Homo sapiens: one gene and its partners. The protein of the gene in region 3 interacts with the protein of the main gene of each other region in a pairwise test. Each region holds a gene or a part of one and is shown on either strand. Other genes may lie near its edges.

What was found. The genes of interacting proteins can lie anywhere in the genome.
Region 1: the proteins of FSCN1 (region 3) and USP10 interact in a two-hybrid assay, tested with the Homo sapiens proteins (one large-scale study listed by BioGRID).
Region 2: the proteins of FSCN1 (region 3) and MYCBP2 interact in a two-hybrid assay, tested with the Homo sapiens proteins (one large-scale study listed by BioGRID and IntAct).

What each region holds. Positions count from the first base shown.
Region 1 is NC_000016.10:84,758,086-84,762,499, forward strand, and holds part of USP10 (ubiquitin carboxyl-terminal hydrolase 10), read left to right. Parts: intron 1-630; coding exon 631-722; intron 723-1,277; coding exon 1,278-1,387; intron 1,388-1,805; coding exon 1,806-1,861; intron 1,862-2,086; coding exon 2,087-2,190; intron 2,191-4,414. UniProt on the Homo sapiens protein: Hydrolase that can remove conjugated ubiquitin from target proteins such as p53/TP53, RPS2/us5, RPS3/us3, RPS10/eS10, BECN1, SNX3 and CFTR.
Region 2 is NC_000013.11:77,317,095-77,321,508, reverse strand, and holds part of MYCBP2 (E3 ubiquitin-protein ligase MYCBP2), read left to right. Parts: intron 1-4,414. UniProt on the Homo sapiens protein: Atypical E3 ubiquitin-protein ligase which specifically mediates ubiquitination of threonine and serine residues on target proteins, instead of ubiquitinating lysine residues.
Region 3 is NC_000007.14:5,598,363-5,603,694, reverse strand, and holds part of FSCN1 (fascin), read right to left. Parts: intron 439-5,332; coding exon 282-438; intron 200-281; coding exon 78-199; intron 1-77. UniProt on the Homo sapiens protein: Actin-binding protein that contains 2 major actin binding sites. Organizes filamentous actin into parallel bundles. Plays a role in the organization of actin filament bundles and the formation of microspikes, membrane ruffles, and stress fibers.

The sequences.
Region 1 (4,414 bases), on a different chromosome or scaffold from region 3:
CTGAGGCTGAGCAGCGTGTTTGTAAATGGAATAAGGGAATTACAGTTTATAAAACAGTTGCTAAATTGGATTTCTAGTGGACGGTTTAATTTGTAGGAGACCGCTGTCTCTGAAAGGAGTATTTTTACTCACTGAACAGCCATTGAACACACACAGTGATGTGTAGGGTCAGCATTAGATGCTGGGGATGCAGAGAGGAATGAGACGTGGGTTCTGCAAGATATCTTTCTATCTAGTGTCTGAGGCGCCTTGCTGCTGATGAGACACACCTGGCTAATGGTGTTTAAGGAAGAAAGGCTGTATCTCTCAAATCTATTCTCTAATAATGATACTGTGTTAACATTTTTTTGTTTCTCATTAAAATAGGTAGTTCTTGTGTTCCCTAATTCTGTTCCCCCCAGGAAGATTAAATGTTGCTATTTGAGGGAAAAGATTAGTTTCAAAAATGTTCTAATTGAATAATGTACTTGATGTTGAACTGAATGAAGCCTTAACAGTATGCATTTTCTTTGGCTGTGTGTTTTACTGAAGGGATTTTAAATGCTGTCCCAGAGTAGAGCATGTGAAATGATTTGAATGTTCTTCACTAGATGTCATCAATTTCTGAAATATGCTTCTTCACTCTTTCAGAGTTGCTGGAGAATGTAACCCTAATCCATAAACCAGTGTCGTTGCAACCCCGTGGGCTGATCAATAAAGGGAACTGGTGCTACATTAATGCTGTATCCTTCCTGGACGCCGTCCGCAAGGCCAGCTTGTTGCAGCTGTCCCTCCTTTGGGTGCATGTGACTTAGCTCAGCTTCCGTGGGCCATCTAGCTCTCCATTTGAATCCCTAAGTCTGGTTTATTACTTGGTCTGCCTACCTTGCTTATAAACAGGATTATTCCTGACCCCAGTCCATCTCCCTCTAAAAGAGAGGATATGTTGGCACGTGAATGAGGGCTGCAGACAAGCTGGCTCTCATTAGAATAGTCACAAATAATAGGGCAGAGCAACCACTTACAACTGGAAATTTGGTTTTAACTGATTGAACTGTCTTGGTTAGGTCAAGTTCTTGAATACAAACGACTGACTGCTTCGTAGATCCTTATATGGACATCACAGGACACTTACCCTAGTAACTATTTGGTTTATTCCTTTTCGTGGTGACATATCTAAGTAGTTCAACGTCCTTAGCTTCCTTGTGTTTTTATAAACATTCTTGTGCTTCATGTGCCTTCAGGAAATGTGGTGTGTCTGTTCATTTCCTTTACGCTTCCTTACTGCCACTACATAGACACTGCAGGCATTGGTTGCTTGCCCGCCGATGTACCACCTGATGAAGTTCATTCCTCTGTATTCCAAAGTGCAAAGGCCTTGTACGTCAACACCCATGATAGACAGCTTGTAAGTAAGGTGGTGAAAGATGTGTTAAGTGGTGGGGTTTTTCCCGTCTGATAATTAGAATTGAAATAGTTTAGTAAAGCTCTTGATTTCCTGCAAATGAGTCCTATAATTCTGTCTTTTTTTAAAAATAGACTGTTGGCGATTTTATATGGAAGTTAACCAGAAATGGAATTGGAGCATTGATGATCTGTGTTCTTTAGATTCAGTAGAAAATATTTTAGCGTTTACCAGCATATATCACTTGAAATAGACCAAAAATGCATATAGAAGAGACTTGAGTTCACTAGCTGTTACAGCATTGGTTACCTAAAATCTACTATACTCGTATAGCTGATATTCTACTTAGCCATCAAAGCTCTTTAGTAAAAGTATATATTGTTTAAAACTGCACTATTTAACATTTTTTCCCCATGTTTAGTGTTCGGCTAATGAATGAGTTCACTAATATGCCAGTACCTCCAAAACCCCGACAAGGTTAGTAAAAATGAGTTTTGTTGATGCTATTACATATTGGGAGTTATGGAGACAGATGACTTAAATTTGGTAAATTCAGTCTTGTTGGGAAGATAGTGTCTTTACACCTATGCCATTCTCAACATTCAGCCAGGTGGGAGGTGGGGGAGTTTTGATGATGTTGCTTTTTTCATCATTTATGAGTTCATTGTAGTTAGGAAAACCTGTGTCCTCTTTCCATTGCAGCTCTTGGAGATAAAATCGTGAGGGATATTCGCCCTGGAGCTGCCTTTGAGCCCACATATATTTACAGACTCCTGACAGTTAACAAGTCAAGCCTGTCTGAAAAGGTTTGAGACTTCTCTGTTGTCACTAGTATCAAGTGTTGCCTTTTGTTCCAGTGTTTGTGTGGTAACTGTTGCTTATTGATATTTGCCCTCTGTCTCCAGCGCTATAAGTAGATGTAGGTTTATAAGAGTCCATTGCTTGGATGATATGGTGCACCAAGCACTGCTCTCAGTACTTTACATATATTAACTTAGTTGACTCTGAATAAAGTATGATTATGGTCTCCTTGTTACGGTTAAGAGAAGTGAAGCCACTGTCTGAGGTCAGGTAGCTAATGTACATGGCAGAACCCAGCTTTCAAGTCAGTTCTCTTAACCACTGCACTATATGCCACTGGGGTAGAATGGAGTGCACTGGGCCTGGAATGATGGCAGTATTCAGAAGAGCTTATGTCTTCATCATACTTACAGGCTTTAGTAGCTATTTGATGTACTTGATTCCTTTACCTAATTTTTTTTTAATCACATACTTTGTTACTAAAGGCATGAGACCAAGGGGCCAGGGAGCCCTTATAAAAGGCCCTGGGGCTGTTGAGAGTGACTTGGGCCGCCCTTAGCACCGTTAACTGGAGCATTTCTTTCCTCCCAGATTGAGTTTGTGATGAATCAGTACAAGCAGTTGAAATGATGCTTAGGGAAATGTATTCAGAGAGAAAAATAGTTGAGAAAATGCCATTTAAGTCAAGTTTACTTGAAGCTTCATTGCTTTGAAGAAGAGTGAATGTCGAGGGCATCGTTGCAGGATACCACCAGGGGTAGCATAGGGTCTTAAGCTTTTTAAATGCTTATAATGCAGCTTTTGGTATTGGCTTGGAATTTGCACTTCCCAAGTAATGGGAACATGGTGTTAGGGATGCAGAAATGGAATGAAGTGCGCCCTCTGCCCTCAGTGAGGGAATGAGTTAATGAATAGTCAACAAGAGAAGCACAAAGATACAGAGATGCCTTAGAACCCAGAGGGGCCCACCTAGCACAGGTGGAGGCAAAATAAAGTGGGTGCTCAGGAACCCCTCTTGGATCGTGCACAGAGATAATGCTATGAACAAAAGCATCTTCTAAAGGTTACATTAATAGGGGATGTGTTGGGCTCCCCAAGACCACCCTGAGGTTGGGTGATTCACTGGAAGAACTCAGAAAATGCAGAAGCTGGTATACCCGTGGCTATGGTTGCTGACAGCAAAAGCATGCGGAGCAGAGTCAGGAAGGGAAAGGACAGGTGAGGCAGGGCCTAAAGGAAACTTCCAGACTCCTCTCCCAGTGGGGCCACAAGGCTACGCGTAACTACTCCAGCACCAGACTGTGACCACACGTGAAATGCTGCCAACCAGGGAAGGTCATTACAGACTCCGTGTCCAGAGTTTTTACTGAGGGCTGGTCCCATAGGTACCATCTGCCTGGCTTGAACCAAAAGTCCAAACTCCCAAAACAAAAGCAAAGTGTTCAGCAGAAAGCACATTGCTTGCGCAAACGGTTTAGGCAGAATCCCGTATCAGTTATTGGACCGATGGGAACCTTTCTGAAATCCAAATTCCCAGACACCAGCCAAGGGGCAACCTTGCAAGCAGGCCTTTCCAAGGAGAGCCACCCAGGCCTGCTATGAAAAGTCTTCAGCACACTTTGGCTGTGCCAGTTTTTGCCCTTTTCTGCACACGTGCAGAGCATGCACTCACGTGAACAGCTGCTGTCCACGTCTACTATCTGGAGAGGGCAAGTAAACTTTGCAGTTTACCTAGATGCTTCAAACAGAACAATTTGCAGGGCCTTGGAATAGGCAGTTGTGCTGTGAAGAATGAAATATGAACTGATGATAAGTAACAGAATCAAACACTCGTGATGTGGGATTATTAAACTCTTGGGTGACTCGTCTGTGAATGATTTTGCTGATGTATGTGTAACACAGCTAACGCTCTAAATCAGTGGAGTTTTTCCACATGTAGTTTGAGTTCTTTCCCATGTAGTTGTCCATCATCAAAGACAGACAGAAGCAGACATAGGGCTGCTTAGCTCATTGCTCGAGTGGTGACCCTTGCAGTTGAACAGTGAACTGGCCCTAGACATCTAGTTCTTCGTCTTCTATTTTGTTTACCCAAGACAGAAACTTTTTTTTAAATAACTTTTTTGTGATAAAGGTAATGTGGCCAGGTGTGGTGGCTCATGCCTGTAATCCCAGCACTTTGGGAAGCCAAGGCAGGCAGGTCACCTGAGGTCAGGAGTTTGAGACCAGCCT
Region 2 (4,414 bases), on a different chromosome or scaffold from region 3:
TGATCACCCTTGATGGTTTTAAGCTATGAAGAGACGTTATTTATTGTAGGAATATGTCAGGAAGTAATGCGGGATTGAATCTGTATGTGTACATCTGTATTTGTGCATAGGTAGTAATTTTCTTCATGTAGCTGTTATATCAGTGGAATCCTGTATAGTGTATAAACACAAGTTAAGGCAAAAACTGCTCTATTGGTATACTGGTAGGTAGAAATGTGAAATGAATTAGTTTCCTAACTCAAGAGAAGAAAAAAATCTTGCCTCTGGGCTTAAAAGGAAAATAAAAATGTCAATCTAAAAATACTTTTGTCCTTTAATATATTTGTTTAAAAAATCAACAGAATAGTCTCACTTTTTTCTCAAAAACCAGATTAAACATTTAGGTTTTCTGAGGAGGGGTTAGGTTAATTGAGGTTTAATTTATATACAATAAAATTCATCCTCTTTAAATGTTCATTTGAAGAGTCCTGAAACTATCACCACAGTCAAGTATAGACTGTTTCCATCACTTCATATAAAAAGTTCTGTCAGGCCCTCCTACCCCTGGTTACTGACCGCTGCAAATCAGTTTTCTGTCACTAATATTTTACCTTTTCTAGAATGTCATATAAATCTAGCTCCTTAAGGGCAGGGCCCCCAGGTATTGTTCATCTTTCTGTCTTGTATCTGTATTTCCTGTAAGTGGAAGCTAGACCTTAAGGGTTTATTAGGTGTTCATTAGAAAATTTTTTAGCAAGAATATTGTATATGGCGCTGGGTACTGCATGTTGCATCCCATCCAGAGGTTGTGAGGTTGTCTCACTATTTAATATGTTAAATCTGATTACTTGGGTAAGACGGTACCTACTAGATTTCATCTCTGTAAATGTATGCTTTTTCCATTTGTAAAGAACAAGTAATCACAGGGTAAAAATTTGAGCACATTGTGAATGCCTTTTACCTAATGCTTTTAGCATTCTTTGATAATCCTTGTCTGAGTCAATAATTTCATTAGGGGTTGCAAAATGATGAATTAAAAAATAATTCTGTTATTTCTTCTATGTTTATTAGCTGGTACTCTTCTGCAAAGAAGAGTTGGCCTTCACTGACTGTCAGTGAAATGTAGTTTCTCCTAATCCAGCAGCATAAATGCTTAATTCTCTTCCCTCATTAGCCAAATTGGTGTAATAGTCCAGTGGTGGTGTGGCAGGTGCTGTGGTTAGGCTTTCAGATCCCGCTTTCAGGCACATGTTCCCCTAGCTCTTGGCAATATTGGCAGCTAAAACTGATTGCAGCTGAGTCCCACTCCACGCATTGCCCTGAGCCAAGAGTTGCCTCCCCCAGAGTCATGCCTCCTCTTCAGGGGCAGTTTACATCTAATATCTATACAGTGTAGGGATATAAATGCCTAGCGCTTTTGCTATAAGACAAGCCAACCTTGAAGTCTATCCCAACACCAGAGAGCTCTCCCATGGGTCTGGCTGAGGGCTTCCTGGGACTGCATTGCAGATCAACTCCTTCCTCTGTTCAGTCTTACGTCTTTCACTGCCCCACAGTTGTTGGTTCGGAGGGCACTCCGCAATAAACTTCCGGTGTGCACATCTGCATTTGAGAGTCTGTTTCCTGGGAACCCTCCTACCCAAAGCAGTTGGTGCCAGGAGTGGTCTCAGAAAGTAGACTTTACAGTGAGGTTTTGAAGCTGGATTATTGGCTGGCTGGCTGGCAATGAGAATCGATTCTGGTGCTAGATGGAGCACTAATACTGATAACGCTTGGCATGCACTGTAGCTATGCAACTTAAAACTTTCACTGGTGGTGAGTTGGAATGCTATTCCTGTTGAAGGGAATGCACTGGTGAGTGCACTAGGCTTTTGAGAAGTTCAGAGAAATTAATTATGAGGACAATCATCAGATGGCTTTTGGTAAATAACATTGATAGATTGGAGAAAGATGATGCAAGGTGGAAGATAATTGGGGGCAAAATGTAAAAGGAAATTTATTTAGCATCATGTAAAGAAACACATATACAGTAAGAGGAAAAATCTAAGGCTTCAACCCAAAACTTAATTTTAAGGGTAGCAGAGCACCAAGGTAGGTAGAATTCTCTCTCAGCTATGCTAAGGTCAGTGTTCTGGTTGGGCAGGAATCCTGACCCTTAGGATGGGGCATCTGAGTGCACTTGAAAACCCTGAAACCCCAAATTCCTCTTAACCCTCTGGGCCTGCAGAAGTGGCCTTCTTCTACTAGCTAGAGGGGTTGCTTGCAGACTGTGCTGTCCCTCTTACCCCCAGCTCCTCCTCTCTCGCCTACTGACTATCACCAAACCAACAACTAGGGTTAAGTCACAAGAACACCTAGTTCGGGGTGCTGGATCTGCGAAGGGAGGAAGGGACTGTACACACAAACACACACACACACACGTTCCCAAACTGCACCAAGGCACCCCAAAGCACCACCACAGACACAAAAGAATACCATGGGATATTTCAGAATTTTAAAGGAAACACAGCAATATCTGTCACAAATTACTAGCTTGAGGTAGTTCACGGTTTTGACATTAGCTCATGCCACATTTCTTTTGATGATGTCATATTTTTGCAGGGTTGGATTTTTACTAGTTGTGATACAGATCAAGCACTGTGCAAAAATCAGTGTGGAACAGGAAAGGAGGGTGGCATGTTCAGTCTGATTCCAAGTTTGAGAAGTTGTTCTGTGTCTAACAGGCACACATGTCATATTATCAAGTAATTGAAGTTTTTGTTTGTTTGTTTGTTTTGAGGCAGAGTCTCGCTCTGTCACCCAGGCCAGAGTGCAGTGGTGCGATCTCGGCTCACTGCAACCTCCGCCTGCCAGGTTCAAGTGATTCTTCTGCCTCAGCCTCCTGAGTAGTTGGGATTACAGGCGTGTCCCACCACACTCGGCTGATTTTTGTATTTTTACTAGAGGTGGGGTTTCACCATATTGGTCAGGCTGGTCTCGAACTCCTCACCTCGTGATCCGCCTGCCTCGTTCTCCCAAAGTGCTGGGATTACAGGCGTGAGCCACTGCGCCTGGCCCAGTATTTGTAGTTTTTAAGAAGGAAATAAAAATATTTTTCTTCCAATTTATGTGTTATTTTTTCAAATGTCTACTCATTTGTTAGGACATGAATTCTTGTTATTTGGATCTAACTACTTAATAAACACTACTGTTTGGTATTTCTTTTGGCCTATGAGTGCATGGAAAAATTACCGATGATGGCTGTGCATGGGCCCAATAAAAGGGTTTTCATTCACCAGTGCTGATCTAGCAACTGCTGCTGCTGAATATCCAGCCTGACAGCAGCAGAGATCAATCATCCTTCAAGCAGGCCAACCAGTCCTTATACAGTGGAAAGGACCATGATTCATTTTGATTGGATTTGAGACATATTCTGGGTCTGAATTTGTCTTTCCAGCAGGGTCTCACCCAGGACTACTGTTTGAGGGCTTGCAGGATGTTTGATCCTCTACTACAGGGATCATTTCAGAATAAGGGACCCACTGTTATGTTATGTTATGTTATGTTATGTTATGTTATGTTATGTTATGTTATGTTATGTTATGTTATGTTTTGAGACGGAGTCTTGCTCTGTTGCCCAAGCTGGAGTGCAATGGCGTGATCTCAGCTGACTGCAACCTCCGCCTCCCGGGTTCAAGCAGTTCTCCTACCTCAGCCTCCTGAGTTGCTGGGACTACAGGTGCACATCACCACGCCCAGCTAATTTTTGTGTTTTTAGTAGAGACGGGGTTTCACCATGTGGACCAGGATGGTCTCGAACTCCTGACCTCGTGATCCGGCCACGTCAGCCTCCCAAAGTGCTGGGATTACAGGCGTGAGCCACCGCGCCCGGCCGGGACCCACTTTTATAGAATAGGAGAATCATTTGTCCCATCTTGCACCACACCGTCCAGAAGCTGATGACTTGATAGAGCAGTAAAACAGTCCTTTGATGGCACAGCTGATGATGAGATCCTGCAGCTTGGGCATGATGCCCTGCAAGGGTGAGGCGCCCATTCTCCAGTGTTCCCAGTAGGAAGATCACATGAAATTAGGAGTGGCTCCGCATAGCATCACTCTGTGAATCACCTGGGCAGTTTCTGCTTCCCATCTCCATAGCTCTGATGGCAAGGGGTTAAAAGATCCTGGTTCTCAGAAGAGAAACATTTCCAACAGAGGGCGCTATGAGAATCCTGTTATACTTTAAAGTACAGCTGCCACTAGGATTTGGGGCTCCTTTTCTAAATAAAGAAGTCACCAGGCTGGGCACGATGGCTCACGCCTGTAATCCCAGCACTTTGGGAGGCCGAGATGAGTGGATCACGTGAAGTCAGGAGTTCGAAACCAGCTCAGCCAACATGGTGAGACCCTGTTTGTACTACAAATACAAAACAATTAGCCGGGCATGTTGGCGCGT
Region 3 (5,332 bases):
GCTACCAAGTGACCACGGCATGGCCAGACCCTCCAGGACTCCAGGACGGCTCCAGGGAACTGGGGCTTTAGTGTTACCTGCTGTCTCCACCGAGGCGGCCAGCTGCCCATTCTTCTTGGAGGTCACAAACTTGCCATTGGACGCCCTCAGTGTGATGCGCCGGTCACGCCACTCGATGTCAAAGTAGCAGCTGGCATTCCTGGGGGATGGCGGGACAGGGTCAGGCGGGGTAGCCCAGGCAAGGTGGTGGGGGCGGTGACAGGTGGGAGCGAGGCACTCACTTGCTGGAGGCGGTGGACTGCACGCCCCCGGTGGCCGTCAGCGTCCAGTACTTGCCCGTGTGGGTACGGAAGGCACACTTTTTGGTGTCGCGGTCGATCTCCAGCTGGAAGGTCTCCTGGTCGGTCTCCTCGTCCTGATTGGCAGACAGGTCCATACCTGCAGAGAGGAGGCCTTGGGCTGGTACTGGGGCCCCACGCCCCCTAGTTCTGGCAGACCATAGCCCTGAGCTCACAGAACTACACACGCAAGGTAACACCACGGGGTGGGGTGGGCGGCCGAGTCCCCACAGTGGCACACATGAGAAGCAGCAGAGAGCACCCAGGAACGCAGGCAGGGCCGGTCAGAGGCCAAGGCAAGCTACATCTGTTCCCACATGACTTTCCCCAGTTAGAGAAATAATAGGGGCCAGGGACAGGGGCTCATGCCTGTGATCGCAACACTTTGGGAGGCCAAGGCAGGAGGATTGTTTGAGTCTAGGAGTTTGAGACCAGCCTGGGCAACATAGCAAGACCCCCACCCCACCCCCGTCTCTACAAATTACTTTTTTTAATTAGCTGGGAGTGGTGGTGCAAACCTGTGGTCCCAGCTACTTGGGAGGCTGAGGCAGGAGGATCGCTGAGGCAGGAGGCTGAGGCTGCAGTGAGCCGTGATTGCACCACTGCACTCCAGCCTGGGTGACACAGTGAGACCCTGTCTCAAAAAAAACAAAAAGAATCAAGAAACCAACTGCACAAAAGACATTCTTGAGCCAATCAGGAGGGTCTTAACGTGGCCCAGAATTAGATGTTAAGCATTGATTACTGTTGATCACGTTGTGGTTACATAAGAAAATGGCCTCGTTTTTTTAGAAACACAGATGGAAGTATTTTGGGATGAAATGCCCTGATGTCAGGGATTTGCTTCAAATACAACCAAAAATGGTATAGAAAAGGACAAATGGGGCTGCAGCACAGCGGAACAGCGCATCTTGGGGGGCCGTGTCTGGGGGTTCATGCTATTGTTCCTGCTTCTATGTAAAAATTAAAATAAAACACGATGGTACATGTTCCTTTCCTTTAGAAAACTTATAAAAGGGCCGGGTGCGGTGGCTCATATCTCCTGCAATCCCAGCCTTTTGGGAGGCCAAGTCAGGAGGATCATTTGAGACCAGGAGTTCAAGACCAGCCTGGACAACTTAGCAAGACCCTACTTAAAAAAAAAAAAAAGGGGCCAGGCACAGTGGCTCACACCTGTAATCCCAGCAGTTTGGGAGGCCAAGGCAGGCAGATCACCCGAGGTCGGGAGTTTGAGACCAGCCTGACCAACATGGAGTCACCCCGTCTCTACTAAAAATACAAAATTGCCTGAGGCTGAGGCAGGAGAATCACTTCAACCTGGGAGGCGGAGATGGCAGTGAGCCGAGATCACTCCAGCCTGGGCAACAAGAATGAAATTCCGCCTCAAAAAAAAAAAAAAAATTTTTTTTTAAGCCCTGTCTCTAAAACAAAAAAAAGGAAACTATGAAGTCCTACACGTCCCCTTCCCACCCCACTGCAGAACACCCCTGTGTTGGCAAATACATCTCTTTCTTTTTGATTCAGGGTCTTGCTCTGTTGCCCAGGTTGGAGTGCAGTGGCACAATCATAGCTCACTGTAGCCTCGACTTCCTGGGCTCAAGTGATCCTCCCACCTCAGCCTCCCAAATAGCTGAGACTACAGGCACACACCACCACATCAAGTTAATTTTTTTTTCTATTTGGTACAGACAGGGTCTGGCTATGTTGCCTAGGATGGTCTTGAACTCCCGGCCTCACATGATCCTCCTAACTCAGCCTCCCAAAGTGCTGAGGTTACAGACACAAGCCACCATGTGCCCAGCCAGTGAACCCACAACTTTCTAGCTGTTTTTTTCTTATACATAAGAAGCATGCGGGTTGCCACGGCGGCTCACGCCTGTAATCCCAGCACTTTGGGAAGCTGAGGCGGGTGGATCACCTGAGGTCATGAGTTCAAGACCAGCCTTGCCAACATGGTGAAACCCCGCCTCTACTAAAAATACAAAAATTAGCTGGGCATGGTGGGGCATGCCTGTAATCCCAGCTACTTGGAAGTCTGAGGCAGGAGAATCACTTGAACCTGGGAGGCAGAGGTTGCAGTGAGCTGAGATTGCACCACTGCACTCCAGCCTGGGCGACAGAGCAAGAATCCATCTCAAAAAAAAAAAAAAAAAAAAAAAGGAAGAAAGAAAGAAACATGCACAGATGTCCTCTGTCTCTGGATTTGCATACTGTTTTCTGTATGGCATCTTTACATGATTCCATGTCCCTAAAAAGTAGAATGGGACTGGCCGGGCACAGTGGCCCACACCTGTAATCCCAGCACTTTGGGAGGCCGAGGCGGGCGGATCATGAGGTCAGGAGTTTGAGACCAGCCTGGCCAACATGGTGAAACCTCATCTCTACTAAAAATACAAAAAAAAGGACCAGGCAAGGTGGCTCATGCCTGTAATCCCAGCACTTTGGGAGGCCGAGGCAGGCGGATCACGAGGTCAGGAGATCGAGATCATCCTAACACGGTGAAACCCGTCTCTATTAATAATACAAAAAAAAAAAATTAGCCGGGCACGGTGGCGGGCGCCTGTAGTCCCTGCTACTCGGGAGGCTGAGGCAGGAGAATGGCGTGAACCCGGGAGGTGGAGCTTGCAGTGAGCCAAGATCGCGCCACTGCACTCCAGCCTGGGCGACAATGCGAGACTCTGTCTCAAAAAAAAAAAAATTAGCTGGGGGTGGTGCCGGGCGCCTGTAATCCCAGCTGCTCGGGAGGCTGACGCAGGAGAATTGCTTGAACCCAGGAGGCGGAGGCTGCAGTGAGCTGAGATCCGCCACTGCACTCCAGCCTGGGCGACAGAGCAAGACTCTGTCTCAGAATAGGACCCCAGGGATCTCTATCTTCGGGAAACTTAAGGTGGCTTTCGGGTTTTGCTCCCCTAAGCTATAGCAAAGCTGCTATTCTTTTTTTGAGAAAGAGAGTCTCGCTGTGTCTCCCGGGCTGGAGTGCAATGGCACGATCTCGCCTCACTGAAACCTCTGCCTCCTGGGTTCAAGTGATTCTCCTGCCTCAGCCTCCTGAGTAGCTGGGATTACAGGCACCCGCCACTATGCCCGGCTAATTTTTTTGTATTTTTAGTAGAGACGGAGTTTCATTATGTTGGCCAGGCCGGTCTCAAACTCCTGACCTCAGGTGATCCACCCACCTCAGCCTCCCAAAGTGCTGGGATTACAGGTATGAGCCACTGCGCCCAGCCCACAATTGCTATTCATTATAACTACATTGCTTTGCATATCCACATGGATTCCTCCAGCTAAAACCTGGAGGTGGGATGTTTGGCTCCAGCAGCACAAATTCACATTCCCCACGCGCTCTGGATTCTAAGAACTGCAGCAGCAGAGGCGTCTGCCGGGCTCTGTATGGGTGCCTGGCTCAGAGCTGGAGAGTGTCTTCGTTTGGGCACCTTGATGCTGCAGGGACCTCAGCGGTGGGTGGCAGGCAGCACCCACAGGAGAGGGAGGCTGGTGGGTGGTAGAGCCCACACCCAGAGGACACATCCTCAATTCCATTTTTTTTTTAGAGATAGGGTCTTGCTCTGTTGCCCAGGCTGGAGTGCAAGTGGCCCAAGCATGGCTCTCTACAGCCTCCACCTCCTGGGCTCAAAGGATCCTCTTGCCTCAGTCTCCCCAGTAGGTGGGACCACAGGCACTCACCACTACACCTGGCTAACTTTAACATTATTTTGTAGAGATGGGGGTGGTCTCGCTATGTTGCCCAAACTCCAGGACTCAAGCAGTCCTCCCACCTTTGCCTCCCAAAGTGCTGGGATTACAGGGGTAAGCCACCACGCCCGGCCTCCCCATCCTGTTCCATCCTGACCCAACCATGCAGCCCCACATCTGCTCCACAGGTGGGGATCTTCATCCTACTTCACAAAGAGGGAGACTAAGGCCGGTGGTGGCATGTCCTTGCCTAAGGTCACACAGCAAGAGAAAGTAAGGGTCTGGCTGGCTCTCTGGACCGGAGGTGGGTGGCCCTCTTGCCACGCCCTTTCCCTGCCCCACCCTCTTGTCTATGGGTTCCTGGCCCCGCCCCTTCTTGGAACCCCTTGGGCTCCACCCCCCAGGTTCCCTGGGGCCCCTTAAGCCGGTAGCCCACCCTCTGCCCTCCGACGAGCATCCACCGCACTGGGTGGGCTGGCTCAGCCACCACACCCCAGCCAAGCACGGGAGGAGGATAAGGTGAGCAGGGGCTGGGTCCCAGGGTGCCGGGACCATCCTAAGGCCACACCCCAGGGAACACGAGGGCTGGGGCCTCTGCTCACTCAGCCCTCCACCAGCCAAGAGGCCCTGCAAAGGTCTGGCCCGCCCCACCCCCACTGCACAGAAGCCGCAGGGCTGCAGGGAGCCGTCAGGCCAGCCACACCCGCACAGCTGCCCTCACCGCCCCCTCATTCTGCTCAGAAGGGCCTGCATGTCTACCTACAGGCAGGGGCCGCACCCTGGGCCCTGGCCTGTGCCGGCCACAGAGCACCACCTGTCCAATGCGCTGGGGCTCCGCTGAAGCCCCGCTGATCGGAGGGAAGTTAGGGACCAGGTAAGAGGACAGCCTCCTGCAGGCCCACCCCAGCAGCAGAAAGGATGGAGGGAGAGGTTCTAGGTCCACCCCAGCAGCAGGAAAAAACAGAGGGCATCAGGGGCTCCAGGTTCCCCAGAAAGAGGGGCAAAAGGAGAAGGGGAGACAGTGGAACAGAAACCACATTAGCACAGCCTCGTCCTAGGGTTTACAGGGCTCGTCCTCACACAGCCTTGCAAATAAGCAGGGCGCTTACCAGCCCGCCTGGAACAAATGCAGGAAGCCGGGAGGCTCCTTCTCAATGAGACTTCCAATGGCTGCGCAGGGCTTAACTGGCGGCAGCCACGGGGCCACGTGTGAATGCACGTCGGCCTTAATCCTCCTGGCAACTCCATGAAATTTACACTAACCTCATCCCCCAAGCCAGAGAAGAAAGGGAGCTTCCCAG